Regions from separate parts of the Homo sapiens genome. Here region 2 is linked to region 1. Evidence: fine-mapped expression QTL. Tissue or cell type: whole blood. Region 1 holds a variant in brackets; the other region holds the start of a gene. All regions are shown on one strand. Distances are from middle to middle.

Region 1 (8,108 bases):
TATATACCAACACTAGACAAAGACATTACAAAAAAAGAAAACTGCAGACCAGTATCTTTATAAGTGCAGATGTGAAAATCATCAACAACATATGTAAAAAGCCTACAGCTAACATCATACTTAATGATGAGAAACTTGAAGCTTTCCTGCTTTTCTGCTAAGAAAAGAAATAAGGCAAGGATGTCTCCTTTCACCATTGCTTTTCAGCATTATACATAGAAGCCCAAGCTAATGCAATAAGACAAGAAAATAAAAAGCATATAGATTAAGAAGGAATAAATAAAAGTGTCCTTGTTCACAGATGAACACATAAAATGGGAACTCACTTATTACCACAAGGACAGAACCAAGCTATTCATGAAGGATCTGCCTCCATGACCCAAACACCTCTCATAGGCCACATCTCCAACAGGGGAGGTCACATTTCAACATGAGATGAGATGGGACAGAACCTCCAAATCGTATTAATGACAGTGGCTTTTTAGATATAGCACCAAAGGTATAATCCACAAAAGAAAAAGTGCATAATCTGGACTCCATTAAAATGTAAAACTTCTGCTAATGGTCTGAGCAGAGTGTGTAGAGTTGCTGAGCCCACACACTAAATCTGAAAATGACACCAGATTGACAAAGGTCACACCAAGGAAAATGTGTGCTGTTCCTCTTCTCTGTGTACTTTTTTGTTCATTGAAAATACCTGCTCAACACAGAGAAAACTATCACTTAGGTTCTCAAAACCTGAAGCCACACTTCTGCAGCTTCAGCTATCCAGAGGAACAAATGCCCCATCAATAAAAGTACTGACTTTTTCCCATAGGATGAAAAACCAAAACCAAAAACACTGATGAAGGTGATAGCCCAGGCCTTCCACTCCATTATTAGGCTTATTTGTACCTTTGTCCATTCAACCAGCTTCAAAGGAGGAGGTGTGCAGCTTGTCTTCAGGTTTATGCTCTATCCAAGTTCTTTTTTTTTTAATTTTTTTAATTATACTTTAAGTTTTAGGGTACATGTGCACAACGTGCAGGTTAGTTACGTATGTATACATGTGCCATGTTGGTGTACTGCGCCCAGTAACTTGTCATTTAACATTAGGTATATCTCCAAATGCTACCCCTACCCCCTCCCCTCACCCCACAACAGGCCCCAGTGTGTGATGTTCCCCTTCCTGTGTCCATGTGTTCTCATTGTTCAATTCCCACCTATGAGTGAGAACATGCGGTGTTTGGTTTTTTGTCCTTGCGATAGTTTGCTGAGAATGATGGTTTCCAGCTTCATCCATGTCCCTACAAAGGACATGAACTCATCATTTTTATGGCTGCATAGTATTCCACGGTGTATATGTGCCTTTTCTTAATCCAGTCTATCATTGTTGGACATTTGGGTTGGTTCCAAGTCTTTGCTATTGTGAATAGTGCCACAATAAACATATGTGTGTGTGTGTGTCTTTATAGCTGCATGATTTATAATCCTTTGGGTATATACCCAGTAATGGGATGGCTGGGTCAAATGGTATTTCTAGTTCTAGATCCCTGAGGAATCGCCACACTGACTTCCACAATGGTTGAACTAGTTTACAATCCCACCAACAGTGTAAAAGTGTTCCTATTTCTCCACATCCTCTCCAGCACCTGTTGTTTCCTGACTTTTTAATGATCGCCATTCTAACTGGTGTGAGATGGTATCTCATTGTGGTTTTGATTTTCATTTCTCCAATGGCCAGTGATGATGAGCACTTTTTCATGTGTCTTTTGGCTGCATAAATGTCTTCTTTTGAGAAGTGTCTGTTCATATCCTTTGCCCACTTTTTGATGGGGTTGTTTTTTTCTTGTAAATTCAATGTGCCAGACTCTATATGAGGTGCTGGGGATACATTGGTGGGCAAAAGATGGCACAGTTCCTGCTATCATAGAGCTTATAGTAGAACTAGACAAGAATAGAATAGTCAGAGAAATAAAGTTAAAACTGTGAAGTACTTGGGAGAATAAGTGCATGGTGCTGTGTGTAGATGTGGTTGGTGAGGTGAGGAAAGTCTTCTCCAGGATGGTCTAGATCTCCTGACCTCGTGATCCGCCCGCCTCGGCCTCCAAAAGTGCTGGGATTACAGGCGTGAGCCACTGCACCTGGCGGGCAAGAGATTCTTGAATTGAGATCTGTAAGATTGGTCATAGGTAACCAAGTATGTATGAGAACAGGAAAGAACTGGGGAGAAGAGAAAGGGATGTTCAAAAAGAGGAAATAGCAGGATGAAGCAGGAAGAAGCATGGCATCCAAAAGAAGACCAGGATAGCTGGAGTGCAGATGAGCCTGGAAAGTAGGGCTTTGTAGAGCAGGTTAGGGGTTTTGACTTTATCCTAAGAGCAATGGGGAACCTTGAAGAGTTGGGGTTTCTGAGGAGGGAGGAGAGTGTGTTGACATAATTATATTTGTGTTTATTTTTTAAAACATTTTTCTGGCTGCAATGTGGAAAACACATTGGAGAAAAGCAATCTATGGAGTTCAAAAAAAAAAAACAAAAAAACAAGGCATCTATGGAGTCCAGAGTGGGAGGCTGCAGTGGTCCAAACAAGAGTTGATGGTGACACTGGAGTAAAAAAGGGGACAGAGAGAAAGAGGTGTATTTGAGAAGAACTTGTGACGAAAGTCAACAGGACTTCATGTTGGAATGGATATGGGAGCCAACAGGGGGTGAGCTGTTGAAGATGACTTCTGGGTTTTCAACTGGTACAGCTGGGTAGACAGTGGTGGCATTCACTGAGAAAAGACGAGTTCTGTAAAGATAGGGCATGAGTGTAATTTTAGACATGCTGAGTTCAAAGTGCCTTAACATATCCAAGTAGAAAATTTCAGTGAGCAATTAAATATATAGGTCTGGTGTTCAGAGGAAATATCTGAGCTGGAAATACAAATTTGTGAGCCTTTTTAATATAGATAGGACTTGAATTTGTGAGTGGAGATGAGATAGAGAAAGAAAACAAAATTGAGAGAAGAGGCTCTATAGCTGAACACCGAGGAAATTTAAAGTCTTAGTAGAGAAAGATGAAAGAGCAGAAAGACGTAGAAGAAGCCATTAGAGAGATATGAGGAAAATCAGTAGAATGTGGTGTTCCAAAAGCCAGAGAAAACAGTATTTCAGGAGGCAGGGAGTGCCAAATGTGGCTGAGAAGATAAGGAAGAGAGAGACTGGAAAATAATCATTGAATATAGAAACACGGAGGAAATTGAGAACTTTACAAAGCGCTATAAAGTGAAGACACTTAAGCATGTTTTAACTCACAGGAAAGGTCTACTTGTTTGTGAAAAGGAGAATATACAAGTATAAGAGAGAGGAAAGTCTATCTGAATGTGGTAGGACTGGGTTCTCCAGCCCTGGTGGAGAGACTGGCATGAGACCAAAAGAGTCTCGTGTGGGTTAAGACAGAAGGAACATTGATAGGATAGGAGGATGGGTTTGTATATTTAATGGTGGGAAGTCAAAGAGTTCCTGTAAGATGACTTCCAGAGGCAAAGCCATCTGTTGAGATTTCAGGGTTTCAAGAGAGTAGAAGCCTGAACTGTTGTGAAATCTAGCAGGCAATGTGCTAAGGAAACACAACAGGATTACCAAGCATTTCATTTGATATTAGTGAATTGAGAGCCCATTTGACATTAGTGACTAGAAATTTATTTTGACGAATCAATCATTTTCATTTTTTTCATTCCTTTAGCAAATGTTTATTGGGTGGCCTTAGGTGCCAGACACTCTTATAGGCGCTATACTGAGTGTTGTGGAATTCTAGCAGGACACAGAGAAGGTCAGTAATTTGGTTCACACAGTGATGGAATTTTAGCAAATATGTGGTTCAGAAAGGCAGAGAGCAAAGCATTGGCAGAGTATAAGTGGTAATGAGCTGAGGATTCTAAGCAGTTTAGGAAGGAAGTGGGTAGAGAACAATTAGGAGCCAACGCCCAAAAGCACTAGAAGCATATTTGACTTCTTTAAAAATATAACCCTATGTCACTCTTTTAAATCAAGAGTGCTATCTCTTGGTTTAAAAGAATATTTGATCCTAGCAAATTGTGTCATTCTAAATAACAGAGAGGGAAATTCTCTAACAGAAAATGATATTTATTCAGAAATGGGCATTGCAATAGGAATATGGGTGCCATTGTAAACTATGTGTGTATTCAGGGAGGTAAAGGAAGACAAAGGTCTTGTAAGAAAAAAATGAGGAGGATTACATAATAGTTTTGAGATAATTATCCTTGGCTACAAGGATAAGTAACAAAGGTGGTGTCAGTCCAAGTTTGGAAAGGCAATTGCTGGGCAGATGTCCTCAAAGAAGTGTTTTCTGTGTAAGGTTGTGATGGCCTTTGTGTGAAGTTGTAGTTTT[T/C]GCAGAATTTTTTGTGGTAGTTTTGTTATCAAGAACTTGTGCGTGAGAATCCTCCCTTTATGGCCTTCCCAAGCACTGTTTTTCAGCTGTTTTTGGTTTTGTTTTTTTCTTGTTGACACAAGTGACTCTATTTTGATTCTGATAACTTTCACATTTCCCCCCTTTTGATCAAGATCTTTTTCTGAAAGTATCACCATTCAATCATCCTGTAGTTAGATTTTCATTGTCCCTTGGTGCCAGGATGTGTCCCAGATTGTTGGTCTGGTCCCATATCAGAAGACGTGATTGGTGAGTAGGAATCTGTGTCAAAAGCGTTCTAGCCACATTTGAGCAACAAGGGAGGCTTGGAGGAAATGGCTCTCAGGCTAAGTCTACCTGGAATTTATTGCTATGTTCAGTTTTGTCTATTCCATAGTATTTTGGCCACAATCTCAAAGCACTGGGCCAGCATTATTCTGTTAGGAGTTGTACTTCTGCAGAAATTTAACAAGCAACAGGTACAAGTTTTAAAAACAAAAATATAAAATAAAATTAATAGTAATATGGTAAATCCAAGTTTGTATAATGGTTTTGAGCCATGAATCCAGTCTTAAAGACAAACAATTGAATAAAGCAAATGACCATTGAGAATTAGATGACATCTGTTGTTACTGTGTGACCCATTTAAAAAATTCTGTGGATATGGGCCTCAACTTCCCCAGAGGAATTTACCCAAGTATAACATGTAGTATTAGTGGAAGCGTAGACTTTTTTTTATTTAAACAATAGATACCTAAGAGGTCATGTTCTTTTAAGTTATGAGCAGAAGCTGCTGATTGTGAAATCTGAATTACATCATTATCTTGCCAAAGAAAAAGGTAAGCATAAGAAAGGAAAAATTAAGAGGGGCAAGAGTCTCATTTTGATGGAGTGTCTTGGGAAACGCTGCCTATAGCATGAAGCCATCAACTTCTCTTGGCTTGCAGTTTGAATTCTCTGCTATGGTATCAGGTGGATTGGTGAACTTTCTGTGTGGCACAAGACTTGTCCTTCTTTTTTCGGGTATGAGACTTGTCTCTTGAAATTTATATCAAGTTGTCTAGCTTCATCTTCTAAGGCGGCAAGCACAGAGCAGTTTTTGCTCTTAGTTGGAGAGTTGCAGCCAAATATTGAAGAAAATTAGGAGAATTCAGGTTCTGATCAGATCTACAGGTAGAAGAGAAGAACTTGAAAACAATGCACAGGGGCACAGCCTAATAATAGGTGTATTATAGTTTTTTTCTTTAGAAACATAACATTCTCTCTATAGTCATCCTTATTTTTACCAAAGATAATCACAGTAAGACTAATTTGTTTGTAAAATATGTTTAGTTTTATCAAATTTTGCCAGCAAGAATAGTGATTTGACCATACGGTAATCTCAAACTTAAAAACTTCTTGAGGGTAGGAAGCCAAACCAAAGCTGACTTCAGACTTTATCTGTAGTACCTATAAACAATTTAAATATGACAATTTAGTCAAAACTTTTGTGATAAAACCAATGTTTCCACTTGTATCCCATAATAAAGAGAACAGATTCTTATCAAACTTAAGTAAACAATCATATTGTCATGAATAGTTTTCCCATTTTGGAGGGATCAGGTAGGAAGAAAAAGTAAATGCTTTCATTTTTGTTCACAAATGTTTACTTTACCAAGCAGCTGTAAACTATAGATGGCTTAAGACAAAAAGTTTTCTTCAATCTGGAAAACAAAACATTGAGGAAAAGAACCAGCAATGTTTCAAATAAATAGGCTATAAAATTTTTTATCAGTTCATTTAATTTCATGTAATTAATTCTTTTCCTGCTTGAGCTTGATTATTAGTTTCATAAATTTATTAGTTTCTTCATTAGAGTTCTGAAAATTTTTATTTAGTACATAATTTTTATTTATTTTATTATCTAATAACTTTGATCTTAAAGTTATTAGAAACTTATATTTAAGACTACTTCTTAGAGTCTTTTCCATGAATCTGATTGAGTATGTCTTTAGAAAAGAACTCAAACCAGTAACCGTGGATGACAAAAAGATAGAAAACAACCGTGGCTTAAAATCTGATGAAATCAGAAAAATAGAGTGCAAAGCATAAATAAATAAATAAATAAATAAATAAATAAATAAATAAATAAAATTTGATGAAAGTTCATGATAACCAGAAATTGACAAGGAAATTTGGTTACTTTGCGGCATACAACATAATAAGAATTCTGACTGATATATTAGATTTCTAAGAGTTTTATATGATCTTGGAACATTCATATCAATAACATACTCATAAATGTAACTGAAAAAAGATCTAGCATCACTTATCGTTTGACAATGCTTCCCATACAATTTACTAAGTAAACCTAATCATTTAATATCTCTATAAGTTGAGAGATACAGTCTTTGAGGCTCTCCAGGGCCCAACTGGAAAAATCACAAAATTAGTTTTAGGTCAGAAAGATTAAACTTAGAACTTGACCCTAGGGAAAACTTTCAAAAACTGTCAAGAGGCTGAAAACACTTGATCAAAATTAGATTACAGAAAGACTTCAAAAACAATACAGAAAGTTCCATGGATATAAAACAAACCAACAAAAATCCTTAACCTTTCCAAAGCTCAGTTTTCCTAAATAATCAAAAAACATAATAAAGACAATGTGAAGCACAGGAACTTACAAAAATCTTCATCTTAGGCCAATTACCAAAAGGGGGAAAGAAAGAAAAAGCTTCCTGCAATATAATTGCTTCTTACTGGAAGCCCGTTTAAATAACCTGGAAGTCTAACCTGATGAAAAACTACTTGAATTTAATCAGACACAAGAAGAGTGGGTCCAGTGGTATGAGTTTACATCATATCATAGAAGAAGTAAACAAGAAAACTAGTACCTTGAGCAGAGGAATACATGGCTCTTTAAAAAAGTGAAAACATGAAATTGCCTGGTTAGATGGAACAATTCAAACATATCAAGAAAAACCAAGATTGCAGAATCAAGATATACTGGAGGGGAACATTGCTTTTCTAGGGCTTCAAGACAAACATTTGAGCATCAGGTCATAACAGCAGAGCTTGAAGTAGAGAAAAAAGTTTCAGGAGCTGACGAAAAAGTTGAAGGAGCGAGTTATCAACCTAGCCAAGCAAAAAGATGTATCCTCTCAAGGAGGGACAGGAAGAGCAGAAGGCAGTGTTGTATGACCTCAAATCCTGTGCTGCAAGATACAGCAAAAATTGTACTTCTGAGATATGAATCTGAAAAGCTTCAAGAGGAAAACTTTACCTCAAGAAATGAAATTACCATCCTAAATGAAGAACATAGCACTTTTAATTTGAAACTAGGGAAAGTAAATAGACTGTAAAACAGAGGCTGGGCATGGTGGCTCACGCCTGTAATCCCAGCACTTTGGGAGGCTGAAGCCAGGGGATCACAGGGTGAAGAGACCGAGACCATCGTGGCCTACATGGTGAAACCCCATCTCCATTAAAAATATAAAAATTAGCTTGGCATGGTGGCGTACACCTGCAGTCCCAGCTACTCAGGAGGCTGAGGCAGGAGAATCGTTTGAACCCGGAAGGCAGAAGTTGCAGTGAGCCAAGATGGCGCCAGCACTCCAGCCTGGTGACAGAGCAAGACTCTGTCTCAAAAAAAAAAAAAAAAGAAGCTGCAGTTTAGAAGATGGCTGAAATTTTACAGAATTAAAAATCAAAGACTTTCACAAATTTTACTAAGAGCAG
Region 2 (8,108 bases), 150 kb before region 1:
CCTAAACCAGCAGACAGAGAAGCCTTTTAAAATGTAAGTCAGATCATATTAGTCTTGGCTTGAAACGTTTCTCTAACTTCCCATTAGAGAAGAACTGACAATGGTTTACAAGGTCCCAAGTGCTTTGGCCCCATTCCTCTCTGTTCTTCTCCTTCCTCACCCTGTTCCTGCTACACTAGCCTCCTTGCTGTTGCCAGAAAGTGCCAGGAATCTGCCCTTGCTAGGACATTTGAAGTGGTTGCTCTCTCACTTTCTCAAACCTTTGCTGGAATTTCACCTTCTCAATGAGGCCTTCCCTGACCACTCTGTATAAAACTGAAGCCAGCCTTCTAGTTCTCCTTACCCTCCTCTACTTTTCCTTTTCCCATGGTATTTATCACCATCTAACAACAATTTCATATACTTGTTTATTATATCTGTTGCAAATTATCTCCTGCTCCTAGATAAATGCTCCATGCATGTGTTTTATTCACCTACGCGCCTGACAGCACAGCAGTGCCAGCGATGCCTGGCACACAGGAGATGCACAAGAAATATCTGTTGACTGAATGAATTATCATAAAACACTATTTTCATTGTGACTCGTAAATCATGTATTTATACACCATTATATTTCTAGACATTACGAAGACATTGCTTGAGCTAGATTTTCTCAGCACCTAAACATACTCCTACATGGTAAATCAGGAATCTCTATATATGGCATTTACTCTTTCAAGCCATCATGGTGTAATTTTTAAAGACTTCAACATATTTGTTTTTTAAAATAGAAAGTTTACTTTTTCCTGCTAGGGTACCTTTCTAAATTTCTTTGGCTGAGTCCTAAGCATTCTATAGATACAGCTATAGATATTTTATTCCTCCATTCATCTGTACCTATCATGACTCAGGGAAACATTCCCACCAAGAGTCTGAAGGATGCCTAGCCCTTTGGAAGTCCTAGTCATCATCCCAATGGTTATTCCTTTTTCTTTTCTTTTTTTTTTTTTTTTTTTTTTTTTGGAGCGGAGTCTTGCTCTGTCGCACAGGCTGGAGTGCAGTGGCGCCATCTCGGCTCACTGCAAGCTCCGCCTCCCGGGTTCACGCCATTCTCCTGCCTCAGCCTCCCGAGTAGCTGGGACTACAGGTGCTCGCTACCACTCCCGGCTAATTTTTTGTATTTTTAGTAGAGACGGGTTTTCACCGTGTTAGCCAGAATGGTCTTGATCTCCTGACCTCGTGATCCTCCCTCCTCGGCCTCCCAAAGTGCTGAGATTACAGGCGTGAGCCACCGTGCCCGGCCCCTAATGGTTATTCTTACTCCCATTTCCTCAGCTGCTTCCACAGAACAGACCTGGAGCCTCTGCCCCCTTGTTTCAAATCAACAACTCTGATTTTCGTCATCAGTTATCACTAACTGATATGTTCTTGTTTATGTCCTTCTTTGTATTTTTTAATCACTATGTGATGTTGTCTATGCATTTTTATTTGCTTATTGTTCATCTGCACTTCTTACACACACTCTTCATAGAATTTAAGTTCCTTGACAGCAAGGATCATGTCTGTTATTCACTGCTATATCTCAGAACCTAGCACCCTCTCTCAAGACGTGATGACAAGAGAGTCTATCCGAAGACATCCGACATGCAGTAACCATTTTGATTCATTATAGCTTGCAGGAAAGCATTCCCAAATAAACAAAGGGCCAAGGGCCATGAGCCTTCTATATACCCACACATAGAATTTCATCACAGGGAATGAGAGGCCAGCTTTCCCACAGCAAGGATGTATTTAGTGTTCCTTGTCCTTTCTCTTTCCTCTCTTTTGAACCATTAGCTTGGCTTTTAAGCATTATATCTCTCTCATGTAGCCCCTCCCTACAAAGCCACAACTTCCTTTGCAAAAGTAATTATGAACATCTTCCTCTTTCACGCATCTCTCTCCACCCTGGCACACACCAAAATACACTAATTGTCTCTGCATAAGGCTACTTGAAAACTTGCCGTATCACCATTTACTACATTTTTCAGGCTATCTACAATTTTTAGTGCAGTGCAGTCTTTCTTATCCATTCTCTTTTTACAAGCAAGTTGCCAACACTTGTCCGGTAACACTAAAGTACACTTAGAATTATGCATTTCTTCAAGGGAAGACAGGTGAGCCATGCTCTGCCAGATTCTTGTCTGCAAAGGATGACCTTGAAAAGTCCTGGAGAAACTGGCCTTTTCATTCCTGCGTGTTCACCTCCACTGTGCCTGCTCACAAAGGAAGCCTTAATGCCACGGACCATTGTACTTTTCAAGCATCATTGCATAGGGAAGAGACACTGCCTTCACTACTGCCATAGCCAATCTTAAATAAGCTAAAGAAATACTAGAAGTTGGGACTGTAAGTGAAATGGCATATTCTAAGGGCAAAAACCAATTTCCATGGAACTGAAATACCTGCCTCGTTTAAGGCAACCATATGACACACGGGTTCACAAGTGCTAAAAGTTCATTTACTCCCTCAGGTAAAACAAAGCTGCAGCTGTAGTTAAGGCTTGAGCTGCAGTTGTTTCCGGAACAAGAAATAGAACCAAGAAAAGATCTGCAAAGAAGCACTTGAAATGGACATTCAGACTCTATAGTTTTTTAAAGCAGTGGCAGCGTTGCTTCTTTCTCCAGCCAGACCCCAGATACCAGTGCCTACCAAAGTGTCCTCTCTCACACACCCTCCTACAGTGTTAGGCTTTGTGGGAAGTTAGAGATCATATTCTCCGGGGGCAAGGACTATCTCCCAAATAGGCAATGTGAAGACATCTTAGCAGGGAATTGAGTCATCTTGGGAGCTAGGAGGAAGATGGGTTACACCTTAACAATGGTCTGCAGCAGGAAGATCCATTAACCATTATGCCTTAGCGCACCCACTCATACTCACTCATATTCCCCCAGGGGTGCTCTGATACGACACTGTCCACGGACTGCACACTCTTCAGGTCTAATTAATGATGCCCACCCTCCCCACCTACTAAACACATTTGCAATTTAAGCATCTCTAGCTCTCCACTACCACCCACCTTTCTCCTCCACTGTCCCTTCTTCTCCATGGAGATAATTAACTAGTTGACTACTTATTAGTCCTTCAGTTGATTAGGATTTCAGGCTCACACTAAGGCCTTATCCTAAAGTCTATAAAGATTTGTGACACCGACAGGGTAAAAATTCGAAACCAGCTAGCAAAACTTTCCTGAAGGATAGAGATACTCAAGATCTAAAAATTATCTGAAGGGTTGGATTCCACACCATGAATCCCCTTTTCCCCCTTCCCCACAGCTCCCTATAGTGAAAGATCCGTAACCTTAGGAATAAATGATAAATCCTGTGACTATTAGGTTTTTCCTGGGAGTTCCTCGGAGACCCGGAGGTAACCGTGTATGTGCGTGCGAGTGTGTCTGTGTGCGTACAAGGTCCGGAGAAGCGAAACGGTCGCAGGTTCCTACAGACCCCGACCCTGTTCCCTTGGCCACCTGGTCCCCGGTAGCTGCATCCCTGGGCGGCGCACGCAGTGAAGCGTCGCGCTCTGGCGCCGGTGCCGCACCGAGGGGTATGACTACGACCCCTTGCGCGTGCCCGCCCCCACCTCCGCACCTCGCGCCAGCCCGCGCAGCGTGACCGGCAGCCGCCGCAGACCCGGCTCGGGGAGGCGCGGAGCGCGGCGCGCTGAACCGGAGAGGCGGGCCGGCTGCTGCCTTGCGTTCGCCACGCTGTCCTCCCTCCTCCGCTCCCTGCGCCCCACCCCTGGCGGCCGCGCTGCCTGGCAGCCCGGGAAGCCGCGGCACAGCTGCTCGGCGCCTGCAGCTCCGGCTCGGGGGCTGGAACCGAAGCGGGGGCGGCGGGAGCGCGGAGACCACAGCCCCCGGGGAGAGGCGGAGGGGGTCCCTGGCCTGGGCGGAGAGGCTGAGCTGAGTGCGCGTGAGAAAGAGGGCTGCACCGCTGCTCGGCGCGGACTCTGCCAGCCCCAGCTTCAGCCCCGGCTCAGGTCGCCGCAGCCCGGGAGCCTCCCCGCTTGCGCCCCAAGGCACGCGCGGCACAGCCATGAACACCAACGATGCCAAGGAGTATCTGGCCCGGAGGGAAATCCCTCAGCTTTTTGAGGTAGGGCTAGAGCTGGCCGACGGGCGGTAGCATCCGGGGACTGCATCTCAGGGGTTCGGGTTGAGGCAGCCGCGCCCCGTCCCACCTTCCCCACACGGGGCATGTAATGAAGGGGCTTGTAGAAGCGCACTCGCCCGCTCCCCCGAGGGTAGTCGCCTTTCCCGCGGGTTGCCAGGGTCCTTGTCAGAAGGCTGGGCTTAGAAGCCTGCATCTCACAGATCAAGTTTCAGTCTTCCAGCAGGGTTCTGAAAGCAGCCTGCTCCCATCGCGCCCCTCGGATGTGGACACCCAGGGTGGGCTGCAGACCGCGGCCGGGCCGCACTCTCTGGGGGCGAGGGCCAGGTCAGGTGGCTGCACTGTCGCCCAGCAGCGAGTAAAGACTCGAAACTGAGGGAGCCAGAGCCCTAGTCACTCTGCTGGTCGAGGGTCGGAACCCCTGGGGGAAAGAGGAAATGTGGACGAAGGCAGCCCTTCCTGGAGACAGCTTGGAAGAGAGGGATGAAGATGCAAAAAGCAAAACCCAACCTATCAAGTGCCACCTCCCCGGTGACAGGCCCCCAGCCTTGCTCTGCGCTTTCGCTGAATGAACTCCTGAGCACGTTTTTCCCGTTGCCTAGGAAGGGTTGGGCCGCAGGTTTCGCCAGTGCTCGACAACCCACCTGGAGATAGCGGGTCGGGGAGGGAGCTGCGAGGGGGGCGGACTCCTGTTGCTCAGTCTTCAGACCGCAGCACAGCATCATCTGCACCGGGACCCGGGAATGGGGGGACACTTGGAGACTGAGAGAGAGGAGGCTCGAGGAATGAACCTTGGTCTGTTCTAAGCCACAACCCCTGTCTCAGGTCGTTTGGCTTCCTTTCCTTCTCTTTGTATTTGAATTTAAAAACATTCCTGAATCTCAAGTGCTTTTGCTTGAAGTAGGGGGGAGGAGGAGAAAAGAATAGAAGCAAGCCAGGCTTCCTAAGCGAGCTCTGAAAGGAGAAATCCATTCACTGCAAACCTCGTTCCCCATTTCTGAAAACGGATAGACTGATATCGTAAACTAAAGGTCATGAGGGTTTTTCCCCCCGGTTTGGGGGATTTGTTCTGTTAAAAGGAATTTTAAAGCACCACTTGAGAAAATAATTTTGCCTCAGTTTCCCTAAACTATCTTTAAAATGGGTTGCCATAATTACAGGTCTTCTTTTCTCTCACCTCTATAAGCCACCGTTTTCAGGTCATCTGAAGTCAAGATTTCCAGGTAAACCACTCACTGAACTCAAGCGTGGTATGTGAAGCCCAAATCTAGCAAATGTGTTACTCCTGCGTGAAAATAATTAGGTGGTGTTGCATAAGGACAGGTCTTGAGAATATGTGGGAATCTTAAGAGTTGTTTTTTTTGTTTGTTTTTATTTTCAAAAAGTAAATATGGAAATTAAGAGGCGAAGGTTTTTCTCACAAAGATTACTACTGAGATATATTTCATTTCTACGCTTCTAAAAGAATCATTAAAAACATCTGTAGGAGGACCACGTGATTGCAAAAATTCCTACATAGTACATCTTTTTTTCTTTGTAAATGTGGGTACTGTTTTTCCTCCTTGGTGGAAGGTAACCACAGAGAAGTTTGATAGTTTATTAAAATCTACACTGTGCATGCAAATAAGTTATGGCAGGCCTTTTTGTTAAGGTTTTATGTTTCTTATTTACTTTTCTGCATATGAATGGGATAAATAATGCACACCCAGAAAAGGAAGTCAACTTGCTTGGGTGAAATACAGTAATGGACTTAGATTCACTTGTGGACAATGAGAAGATGGAAGTAGACTGCTGGTGACCTCAAAGGCTACATCCTTCAGTAAGACGAATCTGTGCTATGCGCAGCTCAAGAGGGAAGGAAAATCTGGCAGTTCTCCATGTGATTAGTGTAGACTGTAAAACTAAAAACTTTAGGTTTTTAAAATGGATTTTGCCCACCACAATATTTTAGGTGTACAAAGTTTAACAATTAGCTGTCTACTAAACACCAAGACATTGGCCCCAGCTGTGGATTTTAGACGCTATTACAGACAAACTGACTGATTATTGTATTGACGTATTGTCAGACAAGTAAATATATCTAACTGACCTTTTCAGATTTTTTCCTAATTTGAGACATCATGTAAGCTAAATGGAATATGGGATATCTCTGGTACGTTCATGTTTGAAATGTGTTTCCAGTTTTAGACTTTTTTAAACCCACTTTCTTATTATTTTGTCATGAGTTCTTAATTCTGGCTAACCTTATGGTGTGTATATTGATCTTGTAGCTTACAGCAGAGATTTGGCAATCAATTTGAATACTGTGGAAAGTCAGATTATTCAAGGTCTCAAAGGGTTCACTCAGAGACTGAGCAATAATATGTGCTGGTTGTCTTCAATCCCTGATAGTGGCTGGCTATTAGAAGAAAAGATTTGAATTATCCGTGAAGGAATGGAGCTCATTGTCCCATTTTAAAATCAATGCCCTTTGGTGAACCAGTATTGTTTAAGGACGCTGGAAATGTATATTTTCAGAAAAGAGTCATTGAGAGTGTTCACCCATTTCAGGCAATAGTAGGGATAAAAAGAGGGCATTTTGCAGAGGGCACAGAGAATCTCATGTTTTCTTTTATCTCATATCACGTTTCTGCAACAGGTACAGAGAAGAACATATGGGTTTTGGAATTGGAAACATTGAATTGAAATCCTGGGCCTAGGAGTTTCTAGTTGAGTAAACTAGAGCCATCACTAATATCTCTGAGCCATGATTTCCTAATCTATAAAATGGGGATAATAAAGTCACACAGGGCTGAGAATGCACTGGGTATGCAAATAAATATATGACACAGAGGCTTTTATTTATTAATGAGGCTAATACTGGCTTGGCGTATGGGAAGAATGTGAGAAGCTCAACTGCAATGTGTGTGTATATGGGACAGATTTTGACAAACAAACTGAATTGGATGCCCGGGTAATTTTTTCTGCTCCCTCTGCAATTGAACTTGGCTGATGGAGGTGCACACTCTAGCTTACTCTATTTAGGATTTCAGAAAACAAATGTACCTAGTGAGAATTGCCTACCATTCTGAGGAAATTACACAGGAAATAATTGAAAATAAAATACTGTATTTAAACAGATGTCAGCCCTTCAAAGGGTGTTTTGTATACTAACAATGTATATTGGTAAGAATAATCCTTTATGCATTTTCCATGAAATACTCTAAAGGAAAATATTTTGCACATCAGTCCAGCTTCCAGGAATCAGCATTTCCAAACTGGTAGCATTTTTAGAATCTAGTGCCAGTGACACATCAGACACCATGAACCAAAAAAGTAATAGCAGGATCATGCTTTGTTTCTTTTCCCCTCTGGAATCTCAGTGGATATCGTAGTGACTTACTCTATGTCAAATAGTAATTTTTTTTTTTAGTCTCAGACCTAAATTTTTTTGAGTCTCAGTTAGACTTGAGCTTTGAGGGATTTTTTTTTTCCAATTGGAAAACAGTTAAATATGCACCTACCAAATGCCAGGGAAAGCATCAGTATCTGGGGATTGAAAAATGAATTAGACTCACTCTGTGTTGTTGAAGAGCTTATAGTTTAGAAGAAAGACTATTGCATAACCGAATGGTTTCAGTATAAATGACAAGTATGATGTTTTATGCTGGATACCATGGGAACACAGAAGAAGGGGTTCACAGACAAACCTAGGGATTCAGAGAAGACTTCCTGATAGTAATAATAACTAAAACCAACAAAGTTTATTGGGCACTTACTATGTGCCAAGCATTTAATATGCACTGTACAAATATGAAATTATTTAATTCTTAAAAAACTCTATGAGGTATTTATTATTACCCCCATTTTCTAAAAGAAGAAACTGAGGTTTAGAGACATAAAGGGTGGGTAGGAGTGAGATAAATAATGACCAGGGGCATTTTCACATGCTGCATTTTATCTCACTGTGATGAAGTGAATGGCTCTTCCATTTTAAAC

Evidence for each region. PIP is the estimated chance that this variant, and not a neighbour inherited with it, causes the effect.
Region 2: AK5 starts here. The variant in region 1 is fine-mapped to the expression of AK5 in whole blood (INTERVAL, PIP above 0.99).

The regions. Positions count from the first base shown.
Region 1 is chr1:77,427,630-77,435,737 of GRCh38, forward strand. All of the region lies in intron 8 of AK5 (adenylate kinase 5), which reads left to right. It overlaps LOC124904202 (a long non-coding RNA gene), which reads right to left. Exons shown (of 2, transcript XR_007066178.1): 2 at 5,104-5,558. Among named protein-coding and RNA genes, the nearest start is that of AK5, 150 kb to the left of the region's middle. The variant T/C (reference allele first, on the strand shown) is at 4,374.
Region 2 is chr1:77,278,259-77,286,366 of GRCh38, forward strand. AK5 (adenylate kinase 5) reads left to right here and starts at 3,761. Exons shown (of 14, transcript NM_174858.3): 1 at 3,761-4,115. The coding sequence starts at 4,056. RefSeq lists a silencer at 3,621-3,680.